Regions from separate parts of the Homo sapiens genome. Here region 1 is linked to region 2. The links come from fine-mapping of genetic effects on gene expression. Tissue or cell type: sigmoid colon. Region 2 holds a variant in brackets; the other region holds the start of a gene. All regions are shown on one strand. Distances are from middle to middle.

Region 1 (6,245 bases), 33 kb before region 2:
AGCCCCTGCTGCATCCTGGGAAAGGAATGTCCATGAATTGTGACTGTGTAAAGGTGTATGTAAGCAGGGAATGCCTGACACACTCCTTCAGATCACCCAGAGGGGATGGAGTGAAGGAAGACGACTCCTTCTTTCCCCTCCTAGTTGGAACCAGAAAGTGTGGGCCAGCATAACACCTTCCAGAAAAGAATTGAGTTGGAATATCTCCCAAAAGCTAGGAGGAGGTTTCAAATACAGCAATCCTGCACTCAGCATCTCTCATTTTTCTCTACCCGGTGCTCAATTCCTGAAAAGAGCATGGCCTCAATGTCCAATGATGTCAGCAACAGGGAGAAGGATGTCAGAGCCCCTTGGATGCTGGGGTGGCAGCGAGGTCCTCACCTCATGGAGTCTGAGACCTGAGGGGTGGCGAGCACGACCAGCCTCCTGGTGGTCCTGTGCTGTTTCAGAGATGATCCCAGGACCAGGGCACCTTTGGCGTAGGCATCGTTTGTGGTTAGTGTCACAAAGGCCTGATCTTAATACAAAGAAAAAAAAAACACTCATTACAGTATCTTATCTGGAGAAAGCCTTTTCCCCAGGAACCCATTCAAACAGTAATTCAGCAAAACCAGTTCCTCTAACATCAACTTTCTCTATGAATCAAGCTGTAGCCCTTTGGGGAGAAAACCCCAAGTGCCCACTTCAAGAATGGTTCAAGATCATAGCAGGCACATATGGCAACCTTCAACAGGTTGATTAAGCTATAGAAATTAAATCCGACACGCTAAATTCTCAGACAAAACAATAGCTTAATACCAAGAGTTTGAACTCCAGGCAACTAACAGATGGTAATGAAGAGATCAAGTAGTACATTTGCTGTTTCTTCTACAAGGTACTGTAGACAGTGTTTTCAGACAAGCACAAAACCAACCGTCAAACTCAATTCAGTCAGTCTGAAAGCAGAGTCCATATTCTTCATTCTGGTGCTTACGTTTATGCCATGCCTCAGGAATGTATGTATGTATGTATTTTTTAAGACAGGGTCTCACTCGGCCACCCAGGCTGGAGTGGAGTGGTGTGATCATAGCTCACTGCAGCCTCGAACTCCAGGCATCTTATACATAACTGTTTCCTCAACGTGGAGCAAAAGCTCCCCTGCCCCAATATCCCTGAAAAATAACATTGAGTCTCTCCTCAAGTATCAGCTCCTCAAAGAGGCTTTCCCTCCTTGATGCTTCTATCTAAATAGTTATCAATCACTGATAAATAGATTTGGAGATCACCCAAGAAGCCCTAAACAACTGCCTGCTTTTCTTTGGAGAAGAAGGTGCAGGTCCATCCTGCACCCTCCCCCTCCCCCCGCCCAAACCAACAGACACGCACCCCAATCTCCAATAATCACTTAGTTGCCAGAAGAGAAGGTAAATACATGGATTTTTCCTCCTGCTGAACAGTCCCCACCCTCCCAAGACCCCTAGCACAGGCTTCAAGATTTCTCCAGTCATTCCCTGGGACAATTCTGGGCCATGTTCCATCTCCAAGAAACATTAGCAAGTTGGTGGGCATCCAAATGCATAGGACACTTCGGATCAAGTTCTGGTAGGAGTCAGTTGCTTAACCAGCGAGTTGGGACATTTTGTCATGAAGTCCTTCTCTTTCTGACCTGGCTTTCCCTCATTCTCCCTTGCCCGTTTTCCAAGGTGGAGGCTGGAAGCAGTAGAAATTCCACCGAGACATGAGAGGAAGTTGTGGGTTGCCTAGTGGGCCAGCGCATCCCTCGGCTGCTGACCTGAGAGCCATCTTCACACATTTTATTAGGCCCTCTCCCACGGCAGGCCAACTACTAAGTTGTAGGAAGACCAGTTCCCCACCCCCGAAGGGCCACCAGCTTCCCAGTCACTCACACTCTAGGAAAGCTCTGAACAGTGGCACCTGTCCCTTGACAGGCCCATCAACATCCGCCTGTACTTGCTTCTATTATCTTCAGCCCATTATAACATGGGTAACATCGCTGTCAATCTGTACCAAAAATACTTAAGCTAGGCAAAATGAATGATCATCTAACTCAAATGAAGTCCAGGTTCCAGGCGATCATGGAGAAAAATGTAATAAGGTGAGCAGGATTCAAGGATTTCTGGAAGCAAGGATATGGATGATTTCCAAGATTAAATAAGGGATAGAACACAGGTTAGAACACCAGACTAGCCAACATTACAAATGACCAAGAAAGACCAATGACAGCTGGGTAGGAGTTTAATCTTCCTAAAGACGGCTGAACTCTGGGTTACACCTGCAATCTTTGTGGCAGTTCAACTGCTGTAATAACCCTGGCTATTAGCCTCAATGACACGGAAGGACCAGCTAACTCGGAGCTTCCCAGTGCTGGGGCTAACTCGTGGAGTGGCCCGGACGCCTCGCAACAAGTGAAGCCAAAGCCGGCGCCCTCCCACCAGACGGGGCTCGCGCCCGGGGACGCTAGTCCGACTCCCGGCTTCCCGCAACCCGGCCCCAAAGGCCTAAAAATAGGCTCAGCGTGGCGGCCGGGGCCGGGGCGGGCGGCGGAGGAGCCGGGCGGAGGCCGCAGTATCCCCGCCTCGGAGCCCCTGCTTCCTGGGGTTCCGGGCCGCCAGAGGCCGGGGCAGCTCCCCACGATGCCGCTGCGCCCCGGACTCCCGCCTGGAACCCCCAGGGGAACCGGCTCCCCACCCCCACACGGCCCCGCCGCAGCTGCTCCGCCCGCCGGCCCTTCGCCGTGAGAGCAAGAGGAAGGACGAGGAGACGGAAGCAGGAACGAGAGCTCCGGCCGAGGGCCCGGGCTCTGCCCGGCTGCCCCATCCCTGCACTCTGGGGGGCGGCGGGGCGGCAGCTGACGCAGGCAGAAACACGCCCGGCTGCGGCCAGCCAGCAACTTTGCGGCGGTTTCGTCCTGCCGGGAACACTCCGGGGCTGAGGGCGGAGGAGAAGGGAGGCGGCGGCTGGGCAGGAAGCCGGGGTCCCGGGGCTGGCGGCGGCGGGCTGCGCGGCGGTACCTGTCATGGTGCTGCCGGGTGCGCAGGCGGCCGGGGCAGCCTCAGGTTGGTGACTCAGAGAAGCCGGCACCGGGAGGGAGCGCGGCCAGCGAGGAGGCACGGCGGGGAACCGAGCGTCTGCCCCGTGCGCTCTTATAGCGGCCGTCACGTGGCCGCGCACGCTCTCGCTGCCGTCCGCATCCTCCCAGCTGCGCGGCCGGCAGGGGCGGTGGCCCGCGGGGCTCCGGGTCCCGCGTCTCCCTCGGCTCCTCCTCCCTCCCTCGGGGCTAGGCTGCCGCTGCGGCTGCGGCTCACCGGCGCCCCTGCTCCTACTTCCCCGGGGCGCCTGCCCTTGTCAACCGCGCGCCCCCTGTCGCCGCTAAACCTGGGAGTTAAGGGGGACTTTGGGGCTGAGTGCGGCATCAAACTCCCCAAGAAGCCAAGGGTTAGGGAACCTTAAAAAACAAGCAAACAAACCCCAGATTACTCTAGTTAAAATCGTGAGTCTGAACTGCTTGAATGAAACGTAAAATTTACGCTTTTTTTGCAGAATTTCGATCAGCCTCTATAATCATTCCTTAGTGTACTCACAATGGTTTTGTACCCTTAACCTAAAAAATATAGTGAATATTTCGTAAATGTTAAATTCTTGGAGCCATCTGCATCAATTAGGCATTTAAGTGCTTCATTTAATCCTTGTACGAACTCAGTGAGGTGTTACATATTCATTTTACAGACGAGGAGGAAACTGAGCTCAGAAAAGTTAAATTAACTTTTCTTTTCTTTTTTTTCTTGTATTTTTAGTAGAGACAGAGTTTCACCATGTTGGCCAGCCTGGTCTGGAACTCCTGGCCTCAAGTGATCTGCCAGCCTTAGCCTCCCAAAGTGCTAACTTTTCTATAGTCATATAATATAAATGGAGAAAGTAGGATTTAAACCCTGGCAGTTTGGTTACAGAATCAACCTTCCCACCCAGAAAGTCTTGGTGCCTCTTGTACACAGGGGCTCCAAAAAGGTTAGTAAATTATTGTAACTGTGGTTAGCCAATGCTAACCTGTTTCACAAATCTTGAAATGGTCAATTTGTCATTTTTCTAGGAAGTTGAGAAATAGCTTTAATGTGATCACATCCTTCTCTGCTCCCCATCCCCAGTCCAAACACAGAACAAGCCTCGGGTAGTTCAGTTCTCTGCAAACTGAAAACTGAAATTGCTCGGTAAATGTTGAATGAGTACTGCAAAGCCATTTGGAAACCAATCAGGAAGTTGACATCAGTTCAAAAAGCAAAACAGATGCTTAAGAATAAGTGATTTATTTGCAAAGGTGGTACTGCTGTCCTCAAACCAGTTATATCACTGTTTCCTCGTGTGTGGGTGTGGATCTCCTACATCAGAATCACTTGGGGGCACTGGTTAAAGCGTAGATTTTTGGGCCTAAGCCCAGACCTCCTGAATCAGAATCTTAAGGGTAGGTTTATTTTGGTGCAAAATAATTTTGAAATCCATGCATTTTTTTTTTATAATATGTATATTCTATGGACTTTTTGAAGTCGCGTCATATACTCTTGAGGTAATGAAATACTCTGTAGGCATAATCATTATATATTTTTAATATAAAAAGCTGTTCAAAATATATTATTTGAAGAAAAACAGGTTACAAAACAAAAAGAATCTTAAGGGTAGAACCTTAAAATCAGTATTTTAAATATCACCTTCCAGGAGCCTCTCTTGAGTCCTTCCTAGTCTTGACCATGGCCTAGAGACCGCTGATCACATGGGAGGCCCTCCCAGTTACTTGGCATTATGTGCTTCCGTTGTAGGAAACAGAAAAGTGGAAAGGGCAATAGATGGGTTTCCACTTATTCAAAAGATATAGACATAGAAGAGTTGGAGCTCTTTAAGGAACACAAAGGCTACACTTTTGTATCTTAAGTGGGGAGAGGGAAAACAAAGAGAGGTACTTCTCAGTCTGATTGCTCTTTTGCAGACTGAGAGGTGAACTTGGAAGAGTGAGATTTCCATCTTTCACCCAGAACCCTCCTGCCATCAGCTGACCCTTAACCATCTACTTCTTGCAGCCTACTATCTCAGGCTGGACTTAGCCAGGGATGTGGTGATGGGGCTGAAAGGGCAAAGCCAGGAGGTAGAACTGGGGACAACTGGGAAAAACAGAAAAGCTTCCCTTAGAACAAGCTCCTCTCTGCTGCAACTCCCAGGACGTTTAAGTAAAAGGAACGGTTACCACAGCTTCCCTTCCTGAGCTTCATGTATATTTACACAAATAGAAAGTTTACAGCTTTTACCACTTTGAATCAAATAGGGACATTTTGAGGTTGCTACAATCTGTTCTTCTTCATTGTCTTAATATAGATCATAATGACCCCACTGCCTACTTTTCCTGAGGCTGCCCTGCAGTGAGCTTCAGTCTGGTGTGAGAGCAAGACCTCTCAAACTTTAATGCGCACACAGATTGCCCAAGGATCTTATTAAAATGCGGATTCTGACTCAGTAGTTTGGGGGTGGGTCTCCCAGGTGATCCCCAGGCTATGGACCCACACTTTGAATAGTGAGGTGTTCAAACATTTTGGATTGTAAGGCCTTAGAGGTAGTGGATAAACATGGTATAGTGAGGCAAATGTTTCAGATTTTAGCTTGTTATTTTTTTTCTTGTGAAACTTGAACTAGTAAAATTACAGAATCCTAAAAGAAAGATTTAAGTTAAAAAAGATAAGTTATACCCTACATCAGTAGGCATGACTATTAACCATTTAAACCTATGCTGAATTCATATATTCGGAATGGTCCAAAATTCATTTTAAATTGGCTTTGTAATGCATTATGTAATTTTTTTGGCAGGATACTTACCTTCCTAATTAAGTTTTGTTTAAGATAATGCTGAAATCAGTTTGCATTCTTTTGAGCACACACACTAATTGATGGTGGGGGCAACTGACCTGGAAATATATTCCGGAGCAGAGGGCAACCTACTCGCCTGAGAATCAAATGGTTCCCACGGAAAGTTTGTGAAATACATATACCACATCTGGCCAGACACAGGAACTAACTAGTCAACTAACTTAAAATTTTGCCCTTAATTGATAACATACACAATCTGTACCTGGGATTGTTGTCGGTAATCACAATATCAAGCAAAAGTTTGGTTTCAAGAAATAATATCCTTGGAGGCCCAAAGTAGTCCGTTCTTCACTTGAAAGCTAGAGTCCCAAACTCCAAAAGTTGCAGTAGCCTGATGGCTG
Region 2 (10,572 bases):
CTGTAGTTTACCTGCAGTTTCCAACCTGGAGGGGAATAAGAACTGGGAGACATGCCTTGCCTCCCATCCCACCTTGCTCACTTTTCTCCAGCCACACAGGTCTCCTTGCTATTCCTTAAGCAAAGCAAGCATCACCCCTACTCAAGGCCTTTGCACCTGTCAATTCCTCTGTTCTGAACATTCTTCCTCCAGAGACCCACCTCCCTTGCTTCTTCACTTTCAGCCCCTACCTGGCCCTCTCCACTCATTTATGCCTGTAAAAATGGGCATTTTCAATTAATACACTATATTTCAAAATGTTACTTTTCCTAAAAATTCTTGCAGGTTCATAGAGATAGGGAGCTTAAGCTATAGAGATGGCTAAAATGTACCCTGGTTAGAAAGACTTCCCTGACTATATCCTTCCTGACGATATATCATATATTAAGTCATTTTTTTCTGACTAGCATGTAAGGGTGTATGGACAAGACTTTGTCCTTTTTAATGGCTTTATCCTCAGCACCTAATACAGTGCCTGGCACATAGTAAATTATCAATAAATATGTGTTAGTTAAATTAGTGAAACAGGCAAATTCAAAAAAGAGGCTAATTTGGGAATTGAGGGGGAAGATTATGAGTTAGCTTTAAATTCACATCATCCTAAAAGACAACATTTTTTGATATTGGCAAGAGGTCAAGGCTAGGAGTGCAGCTTTGTGCCTTCACAGGTCTAACTTCTTTATGAGCATCAGCACAGCCTCTTGTGGACAGCGCCCCTCCCTGGGGGTTATCTCAGTGTTTTTCCTCTTGCATTAGGAGTCCTTTTCTTTCCCTGTGTGACTCATCTCCTCCTGGGTAGAGGAGGGGAGGACAGCCTTGGGATAAGGGGAAGTATCAAGAAGCTGCTGAGCCTATGAGAGGACAACCCAGAAACCACATTTCCTCTCTTAAGCTCCCCATCATATAACTAGTCAATGCTTTCTAGACACTCCAGATATAATTATTGGGATGATACACTACAAACTTTTCAAAATGTATTTGACATAGCCTGTAATAATCCAAATGAGAACAGAGACAACAAGAAGGCACACCTGTAGCTCATTTGTTTCCGCTGTTTCAATTGCTCTAATTCCCCTTTTCCAGTAGCCCATTAGGATCACCTGCCAAATTGACTTATTTAATGAAATTTCTGATGTACATTCATGTGTTTTCTAAAATAATCTCTTTAAGAAAGCACATTTTTCCTTCTCAAATGCAGTTCTGCCTTTTCTTGATAGGAACCCCATTCTAACATCACTACTGACTGTATTGAAATGAATGAATACATTATAAAGCACTTTATCTTTATTGCTGCCTGAAGTGGAGAATATAATTGCCAGCTGTGTATCCCAGGCACATAATTCCATTACTAGGTTCTTACGGAGCCATCAGTCCCATGGATGGTCCTTTGCTTGACAAACCAGCCCATCAAATTCCAAATCTGCCTTAATGGCAAATGCCACCTCTCGATCAGGTCACTGCTCCAGCCTGAATTCAGCAAATGTTACCAGAATACTTACCCTGGGGTACCCACGCTGCTCTTAGTTACGGGGTGCCTATCTTGCTCTTAGTTCTGCTCAAAAAAGCTTGTCATGCTTGAGGTCACAGCTTTTGGTCAAGGGTCCTTCCAGGATGAAGCTGATCTACGTTTTCTTGGACTGTCCACAAACATCCTTAACAGGTGCTAACTCTATTTTTAAATACTCTAGCAATATTTGTATGGGGAGCAGGGGCCAGCCACTATTCGGAAGTGGGCTGGTGAGGATTTTGATAGTGTTTTGGCTTTTTTGTGTTGGCTGGGTGGTGACACAGTTTCTTCAGATATCTTTAAATATATCATAGTCTACCAAATAAAGATTAGTTGAGGTGTGTGGGTTGGGGAGAAAGTGGTTAAGAAAACTTTTCTGCCAGCATACAAACTACCCTGGCTTCATACTTTGCTCTAAATTTCTGTGTAATCCCAGGGTTTTAGAGGTAAACCTGTACGGATCTCCTATCTTACACAAGAGGGATGAGCACTCACATTTACTGAGGCCACATGAGGGCTTGGCGCAGTTGGGAGCTTTTCATTTACTCTCTCAGTTGGCTGATGAGGAAACTGCTGGTACTTTTGTCCTAGCACACAAAGAATATAACCATCCTGAAGGAAAGAGAGTTTTGATTAAAGAGGGGAGGGTGAGAGAAGGAGTAACACTGGGGCAGGGCAGAGGATGGTATGCATGGATGGGTTTGCTGGAAGGAGAGGAGGACTCAGGAGACCCGGTGGTAGGAGGGTGATATGAAGAGGAGGGTGGCCCAGGATACACTGAGCACACTTTTGCACGTTAGTGGAAGACACTGGAAGTACAATGTCTGATACAATTTCTGGGCTGCCTTTGCCACAATATTCCAGGTTGCTGATATCTGCTTTCAAGGTAAGTTTGTCTGATTAGAATCTAGAGAAGTGTTTGAGAAAGCAAAGAGGGGTGAAAATGTTATTACTATTATTTTAGTGGTGGTAATCATTACCACCTGCTGAAAGCTTAATATGTGCTACAAACTGCTATGTGTATGATGTATCTTACATAAGTTAATTTTTACGAAAAACTTGGAGGTTGGTGTTCTTATGCTTATTTTAGAGGTGGATGAACTTTCTTGGCCAGATTCTCACAGCAAATGGGAGATCTGGGATTTGAATGCAGATTTGTCTAGCTCCCAAATTTATGTGATGGAATATCAAATAAATAACTTAATCTCTACTCATAAAACATGGATTCCATATCCCTTTTAGAACCATTTTTATGTGATTCAAGCCAATCCAGAGCATAACAACACTAGAAGATATAATAGCAGTAAGATAAACTGCCTCTTTAGCTATTTCCAAATTCATGGTCTCAATTAAGCCTTTTTCACATGTGCTGGCCCTTGTAATTCCTGATGTACTTTTCCTAATTCCAAATGTCTGGTAACAATTTATGATGTATAATTAAATGGGCTACCCTCCTTTTATCACGCCTTCTAGATATAGTCCCATCACATGAAACAAAGCGAAGCAAAACACTTCTTTGATTTAATGTTGACAGTCTCACATTCTCATTCTTATTAAGCTAATAACATTTAAAGATGATACTGAGGCTCTTTAATAATCCAGCAAGAAGAAAAATACAATTAGGCAATGATATGGTTTGGCTGTGCCCCCATTCAAATCTTGTCTTGAATTCCCAAGTGGGAAGGGAACCTGTGGAACTTGTGGGAGGGACCTGGTGAGAGGTAATTGAATCATGGGGGCAAGTCTTTCCTGTGCTGTTTTCGTGATACTGAATAAGTCTCACGAGATCTGATGGATTTAAAAAGAGGAGTTCCCCTGCATAAGCTCTCTTTGCCTGCTGCCATCCATGTAAGACATGACTTGTTCTTCCTTGCCTTCCACCATAATTGTGAGGCTTCCCCAGCCATGTGGAACTGTAAGTCCAATTAAACCTCTTTCTTTTGTAAATTGCCCAGTCTTGGGTATGTCTTTATCAGCAGTGTGAAAACAGACTAATACAGGCAATATCAGGGCAAATAAATACATCTTGGGAAGTGGTAGAAAGGGGAGGAGAAAAGAGATCAGGATTGAGTAAATGCCATGACTAACTAGGTGGGGCAGATTTTACCCGCATGAAGAGAGGTGCAAGGGCCCATGTTTATCTGAAACCCACCTGCTCAGTGGAAACCCTCCAAAATTTATTCCCATGTAACAATGGGCATTCTTAACAAGAGGCATAAGGCTATATCATGTTGGTTAGAAATCCTAAAGAAGAGTGATGCTGTGAGGAAGTAGGGTAACAAGCTGGTTTCTGGGTCTGGTCAGCCTTCTCTGTGAGGGGCCCTGAGGATATTGGTGGACGTGTTCAGGAATAAGAGGGTTCTGGGGCTGAGAGAAGAAAGGGAGCACAAAGGAAACAGCTAAGACTTTATTTCCGTGGGCTTTCTTGAAGGTCAGTCTGGGTAGAGTTCCAGAGATAAGCTCACTTTTGCTCTACCTTCAACTTAGAAAATTAAGAAAATGCCAGTCACCATGGAGGCCTCTGGGAAATGCCATGCTTCCCTATGAAGGCAGCTTACCTCTGCCCTGGAGGACTCTACTTCTATAGTTTTTCTTTTTTCTTTTTTTTTTTGAGACTGAGTCTCGCTCCATCACGCAGGCTGGAGTGCAGTGGCAGTGTCGGCTCACTGCAACCTCTGCCTCCCGCCTCCCGGGTTCAAGCAATTCTCCTGCCTCAGCCTCCCAAGTAGCTGGGATTACAGGAGCGTGCCACCATGCCCAGCTAATTTTTGTATTTTTAGTAGACACAGGGTTTTGCCATGTTGTCCACTCTCGAACTCCTGACCTCAGGTGATCTGCTCACCTTGGCATCCCAAAGTTCTGGGATTACAGGCATGAGCCACTGTGCCCAGCCTGCTTCTACACTTCTTAAGGAAGAGGTTGCTTGTTTGTTTATGTATATCTATTTATGTATTGATATCTTCTACACTCCTTATTTACTAGGAAAAACTCAGTTTTCTTGGTATGTAACTGGAAAGTGTGCAACGGGGAAAATGTGGCTGTTTATAGCCCTCTGACCTTGAACATGTTACCAAAGCAATTTGTGTTTCAGCTGCTTCCTGTATGAAGTGGATCTCATAGGCAAATATAGAAATGATACATTCTTCATTGAGAAACATCACATCACTGTCCTCTTATGTAGATGAAAGTATTTTTACCATATGGCTCCTCCTTTCATTGTTAACAACCTGCTCCATCAGGAGAGAGATAATGAATGCAAAGAAAAAATACTTTTTCCACTCTAAAAGTCCATTCAGATTCAAAAGTCCTTACAAATACCTGTGTTAGAGGAAGAAACATCCACATCCCCATGCTGCATTTGGAGTGTGTTTTCTGTTTGTTCTGTTCTCAGTAGGGAGAACCGCTTATTACTGTCCTAGGCATGAGCCTTTTATATACTTGAAAACCGTCGCTAGCTCACCCTGTAACCTTCTCTCCTCCAAAGGGAATCACCTTGGTTCATTTAACCTCTCCTGATCTTTATTTTTCAGATCTCTAATCACTTTGTGGCTTGCTTCTCAACTGACCCCAGTTTCTCTCTCTCCCATTAATTGCAGACCTCAGAACTAGACCCAGGGTCTGCCCAGGTTTGTGTGGCTGGGCAGGGGAGATGGGAATGGAGAGGCGGACAGTGACAGCAGTTACTTGTTAGTAGACCTATAAGGTGGGAGAGATGGGAGGAGTAGGCAGTCTTTGTATAACAGTTAGAAGTCAGGATTTTTTTTTTCCACTTCATTTTATTTCAGAGTTTCTGAAACAGTGGCACGTACATCGATAGACAATTTCCTGCCGAAGCATTGAGCAAGACTTTGCCATGGGCCCAGTACTACTGCTGGAGTTCAAAAACTACCAACTCTTGGTCCCCAGGCTGAATCCTGCCTGTGGACAGGGCTTGTTTTGCTCACACTGTTAAAAATAATGTTTTAATTAGTTACTGACTCTCATTTCAAAATGAGAAATTTGATTTAGGAATCATCCAGAGTTCCAGCTTCTGTGAAACTGGCGGTTTAGGAATAGTGGGCTTGCATGTCAGGCCTGGAACCATGTGCTGGAGCTGAGCAGCAGCTCCCCCTATGGATGGGGGACTCCCCTCCAGTTCCTTTGAGTCCTGCCTTGCCTATTGTTGAGGACTGAGTTGTGTCCTCACTTCCTGTCATTCACATGTTGAACCCCTAACCTCCATAGTGACTGATTTGAATGAAGATAGGGCCTTCAAGGAAGCAATTAAGGTTAAATGAGGTCACGAGGGTAAGGGGAAGAGACACTAGAGAGCTCTCTCTCTGCATGCATTCAGGGGAAAGACCTTGTAGGGAACAGTGAAAAGGTAGCTACA[A/G]GCTAGGAAGGGAGGCCCCACTAGAAACTCACCTTGATGGAACCTTGAACTTGGACTTCCAGCCTCCAGAACTGTGAGAAAATAAGTTTGTGTTGTTTAAGCTACTCAGTCCGTGCCATTTTGTTATGGCAGCCTGAGCTGATGAAGCCAGCCATGCACCTCACTTACTTTGTGCCTAGCTTCTGAGGTTATCTGTGTCGAGGCCCCTGCTCTATGTGTGGAAGTTAAAAGAGCGAATTATCCTGTTCCTCTACTTTGTCTACTGGCAGAGAAAGTTAGAGAGAGAAATAATTTGTAACAGAGGGCATCATACAAGTGATGTACAAACTGGCATTGGAGGACAGAAGAACTGTCTGTGGCTGGGATGGGAGGGACAATGCCTCTTCATTGTGAGGAGTGAGCGTGTCAGATGGGTGTTCAGAGATTAGGAGGATTTCAGCAAGTGGTGAGGGAATGAAGGGCAGGAGCAAAGGCATCCAGGCATGAAAGTGGATGGTAATCCAGGTTTGACTGGAGTTCCAGGGTACGTTGCAGGTGGAGGGTGTGCAATCGGAGACAGGGCCAGAAAGGGAGGACAGGGTCTGATCAGAGCCCTGAATGCCACGCCATAGGATTTAGTTTAATTCTGGAGTGAATGAGGAGTACCTGAGAAGCTGGAAGAGGGAACCCAGGGGCTGAAAGATATATTTTAATTGATTAATTCTCTGTTTACTGAGAACATCCGTTGTGTCGAGGCACGGCAGATCCAATTGTGGACAAATAGAAGTCAGTCTCTGCCTTTGCGGAGTTGACAGAAATAGATGATTAGATTTATAACAACGTTAGGCAGTGAGGAGTGCTATGAAGAAAATACAGCAGTGTCGGGATAGAGTGTAATACTGTGGGTGCTAGTGTAGATGTGCGTGCTCAGGGAAGGCATGACATTCGGGCATAACCCTGAATGAAAGCGAGAGGGTGAACCATGTGGTATCTGAGAGAATATAATTCTAGATAGAGGGACAATCAAAGTGCAAAGGCCCTGAGGCAAGAACACAATTGTGTTCAAAGAACAACATAGAGGCCGGTCTGGCTAGAGTAAGCAATGAGAAGAATTGTGGGCAAGGAAGTTGAAGTAGTCTCCTAGTCATACACAGGCTAGGAGAAGGGCACATTTTGGACCAGTACACAAATGAAGTCCTCAAACAGAGCTGACTGCGGAAGACAGGGCTTTAGGGACAGGATGAGATGGATTACCCATCTCCCAATCTCTGGATCAATTGTGTGCGGTGGCAGCCCTCAGTGGAGAGGGATAACCGAAGTCCTGTCTCTCCCAAAGTTCAGACCGTCAGCCTATAACTGTCCCCAAAGAAGGGTGAAGGCAGGGACAGGGTTTATCTGCTTCCCTAGCTCAGAAGCCCAGGCGGTTCCACAGGGGATCCGGGAGAATACAAGTGCTCCTCCTCTAACAAGCACCACACTGCCGCTTAATGTTACAGGCCTCTGACAGATGAAATCAAACCTGTTTTGGCCCTAGAGTGAAATGATTTATTCCAGCAAGTGGAAATAGGAAGAGTTGAAAGGCAGTACAGGCCAGAATGTGGGTTGGCTTCGTAGACTGAGTAATGTGGGTTGGCTTGGTGTAATTCGTTTTTGGAATACATTTTTTTTTAAGGTTTAGTGAGGAGGAGGTAAACAATCCTTTGAGAACCATATAAAGCTCTGCCTCCAGCGTGTGATGGTCAGAGAGCACGGTCATTGCCTTTGGCATTCTCTGCTAAGTTTTCACCCTTGGTGTTTTGCCTTTTCCTTCTTGCTTGGCTGGGAGAGTTATGAGCTCCTTAGGAAAGAATGTCCTGCTTTCTCTGTTGGCCCTGCTGAGGGGCAAACATTAAAAAAAAAAAAAAAAAAAAACCATTAGCTGTAAATCTCTGTGGTAAGAGTGCCCTCTTCTGGTTCGGCTTCTTTGTCTTGAGCTGCCAGTTCCCTAACAATGCTGTTTTTAGGCTTCCGATCTTTTTGATGAAATAAACTAGCAAAGAAAAAAAGCAAAAAAATACCATTGAGGATACATTCATTTCACCCAGTGTTTCTAGAACCCCTTCCACAGTTCTAATTCTTACTTGGCCATATTTTCTGAAATTTCGGACCCAGACTTTCTTTGGGATTTACACTTAGCCTTTTGCGAATCCAGAAAAACAGGTAAAAATAGTAGCATTTCAGAGCTTGGAACGGGTGTTGCAATGGGTTCGTCTGGTCACTTTTATGCTTCTGTTTCTATGCCATTTATTAAGTGCCTACTCAATTTATTGAATATTTGAGGGCCAAGCATTCTCCTAGGCCCTCCAAGATCATAAATGAGATACAGCCCTTGCCTTTGCTAAGAATGTCGTGGGAAATATAGATGAGTAACAGAAAATTACAACATCAGCTGACAAATAACTGAGATGTGAACAGGTGGTTATAGGGGGACATGAAGGAATTTCTTTGGTTATTCAAGCCCAAATGTGAGAAAAATCAATGCCTCCTCAACTCGAATTGTTCCTGTAACAGTCACATCTCTTTATGTACTAGATCCAGGGCTCTATGATGAGCAAATCGTGATGGGTTTAATATATTTCTTCTACTAAACCCCAAAAATAATTTTAGATCTAAAAGGGACATGAAAATATGTCAGTTTTCTCCATTTTTTTTTCTATGTCAAGGGAAAAATTTTCTTTTACAAGGAACATTTTGAGAGGCTCTATATATCTAGCTTCAAGTAATTAAAATTGGTTTTAATTGTGGAATACCAATGCACAATTCTGTGTGGGGTTTGCTAGAAATCATAGATTCAATAGAAACAATTTTCCTCCATATAAAGGGAGAGTTATATTTCATGAGACTCTCCAGAAATCATTCTTCCATTCTGGTCTCTTGTGACTTTTCTCTGTGGGCTCTAACCCATAATCTTGCATATATACAGCTCAGGATGTTACTTAGTGTCCCAATGGCCTTTAAGGTTGTATTTTGTTTTATTTTAGAAAATTTGTTAATGAAATTTTCTGTTTTCTTCTATGTCCTGGATCTTTTGCATAAGAAAAGCTTTAATACAAAGTAGGAGAAGGAGATGGGAGGCAGAGAGGAAAGAGAGAATTCATTTGTGAGCTACAGCAGTCTTCCTGTGTCCATCTCTTGGCTATAAATTCAGATAAAACATGTCAGTGATATTTTAGGGGATGCTTCTCATCAGGTATATATGGTGTTGCTTATTTTACTTTATTTAAAATATTTATTTTATTTTTAACTGCCTATGCAAATTTATCTGCATAAATCTGGTCGCTTTTTTCATTTCTTTTTCCAGTATTGGTTTTAACTCTCAATCATGTACTAAAGAAAGGACTTCTAACTTTTAAATTAGAACTGATAAGCTTTCTTTCTCATAGGACATCTATTTCTAGGTTCCAGCTTTGGTTCACTATACCTTGTCCAAAAATATCTTCTAAACTCAAGAATTCCTAAGGGGGCTTTGGAGCGAGAGGTATCCACAAAATTCTTAGATTACACCCTGAGAAACACTGATGTAGGCACTGTTTTTCTGATTTGAAATTAAAAATCTCAAATGGACTTGGAGGAACAGAGGCTTAATGTAGCTCTGAGCCTGCTCAGTTCTGAGCTAGTCTCAGTAACCAACTGTGGCTGGAGACACAAGGGCTGTACATATACACAGATGGCAGGCAATTGAGCTTTTCAATTCTGCTTCCGTTTTTTTTTTTTTGGTAGGAGCAGAGTTGCTAGATCAAGGATATCAGTTAAACATAATGCTCAAAATGGCAGTGAGGAGCAACCAGTGAGGGAAGCGGCAAGACTGACGGGACAGGGTGAAGGCTCCTGAGTTCCATTGGCTCTGTCATTCATGGGTGATGTTCCAGAATGAGCAATGTATGTGTTCTGAGCTTCAGTTTCTCTATCTCTAAAGTAATTAATAGTGTGCTCCTTGGAGGTGCCTCATGGAGAATGAGCAGCGAGGGGGCAAGGGATCCTCACCTCTGTTTCAACTTACCCTTTCAGTTTTTAATTCTATTTTATATATTTGACTTCATCATAAGCTCTTGTCTGAAGAAAGGGTTACCAGCAAAACAAAACATAACAAAAAAACTTTTAAAAATTATTAGACTAAATGATTTCTAAACTTCCTGCTAGCTCTAGAACTATATGGGAGCCAGAATAGTGGTATTTGTTGCTTTTCTGCCTAGTGTCTATAGTGACTTTCTTCTGATTCTCCTGCAGCCATTTTTGTGACTCAGCTTGGCATTGCCAGAGGCCATCACAGAGAGCTTAGGCATTGAGCTAGTCCAAAGGCAGCCAAACAGAGGTGGGCCCTGGTGGTGGCAGCCTTTAATTTCAGAATGAAGCCTCACCTGTGGCTACCCTGTCTCACAGGGTTTTCAGTTACATGAATCAATATGAATCAATGAATTCCTTTTTTTTTTTTTTTTTTGCTTAAGCCATTTAGAGTTGGGTTTTCTGTCACTTGAAACCAGAAGATTTCTAATTGAATTAGTTGGTATTTAAAAGATAATCAACAAACATTTATTGAGATGTCGTAGAGTATAAAATAGAGTATTAAATGCTTGATATAAAAATCAAGGCACTATTTCTATCAATAAAAAATCTAACTTTGCTGTCCTTTGTGTAT

The links. PIP is the estimated chance that this variant, and not a neighbour inherited with it, causes the effect.
Region 1: it holds the start of GYG1, and the variant in region 2 is fine-mapped to the expression of GYG1 in sigmoid colon (GTEx, PIP above 0.99).

The regions. Positions count from the first base shown.
Region 1 is chr3:148,988,414-148,994,658 of GRCh38, reverse strand. It overlaps GYG1 (glycogenin 1), which reads right to left and starts at 3,119. Exons shown (of 8, transcript NM_004130.4): 1 at 3,012-3,119; 2 at 382-517. The coding sequence starts at 3,018. RefSeq lists silencers at 2,103-2,397, 2,431-3,480.
Region 2 is chr3:148,952,936-148,963,507 of GRCh38, reverse strand. LOC107986045 (a long non-coding RNA gene) reads right to left here. Exons shown (of 3, transcript XR_001740565.2): 3 at 7,420-7,926. Among named protein-coding and RNA genes, the nearest start is that of GYG1, 33 kb to the left of the region's middle. RefSeq lists an enhancer at 5,496-5,997. The variant A/G (reference allele first, on the strand shown) is at 5,919.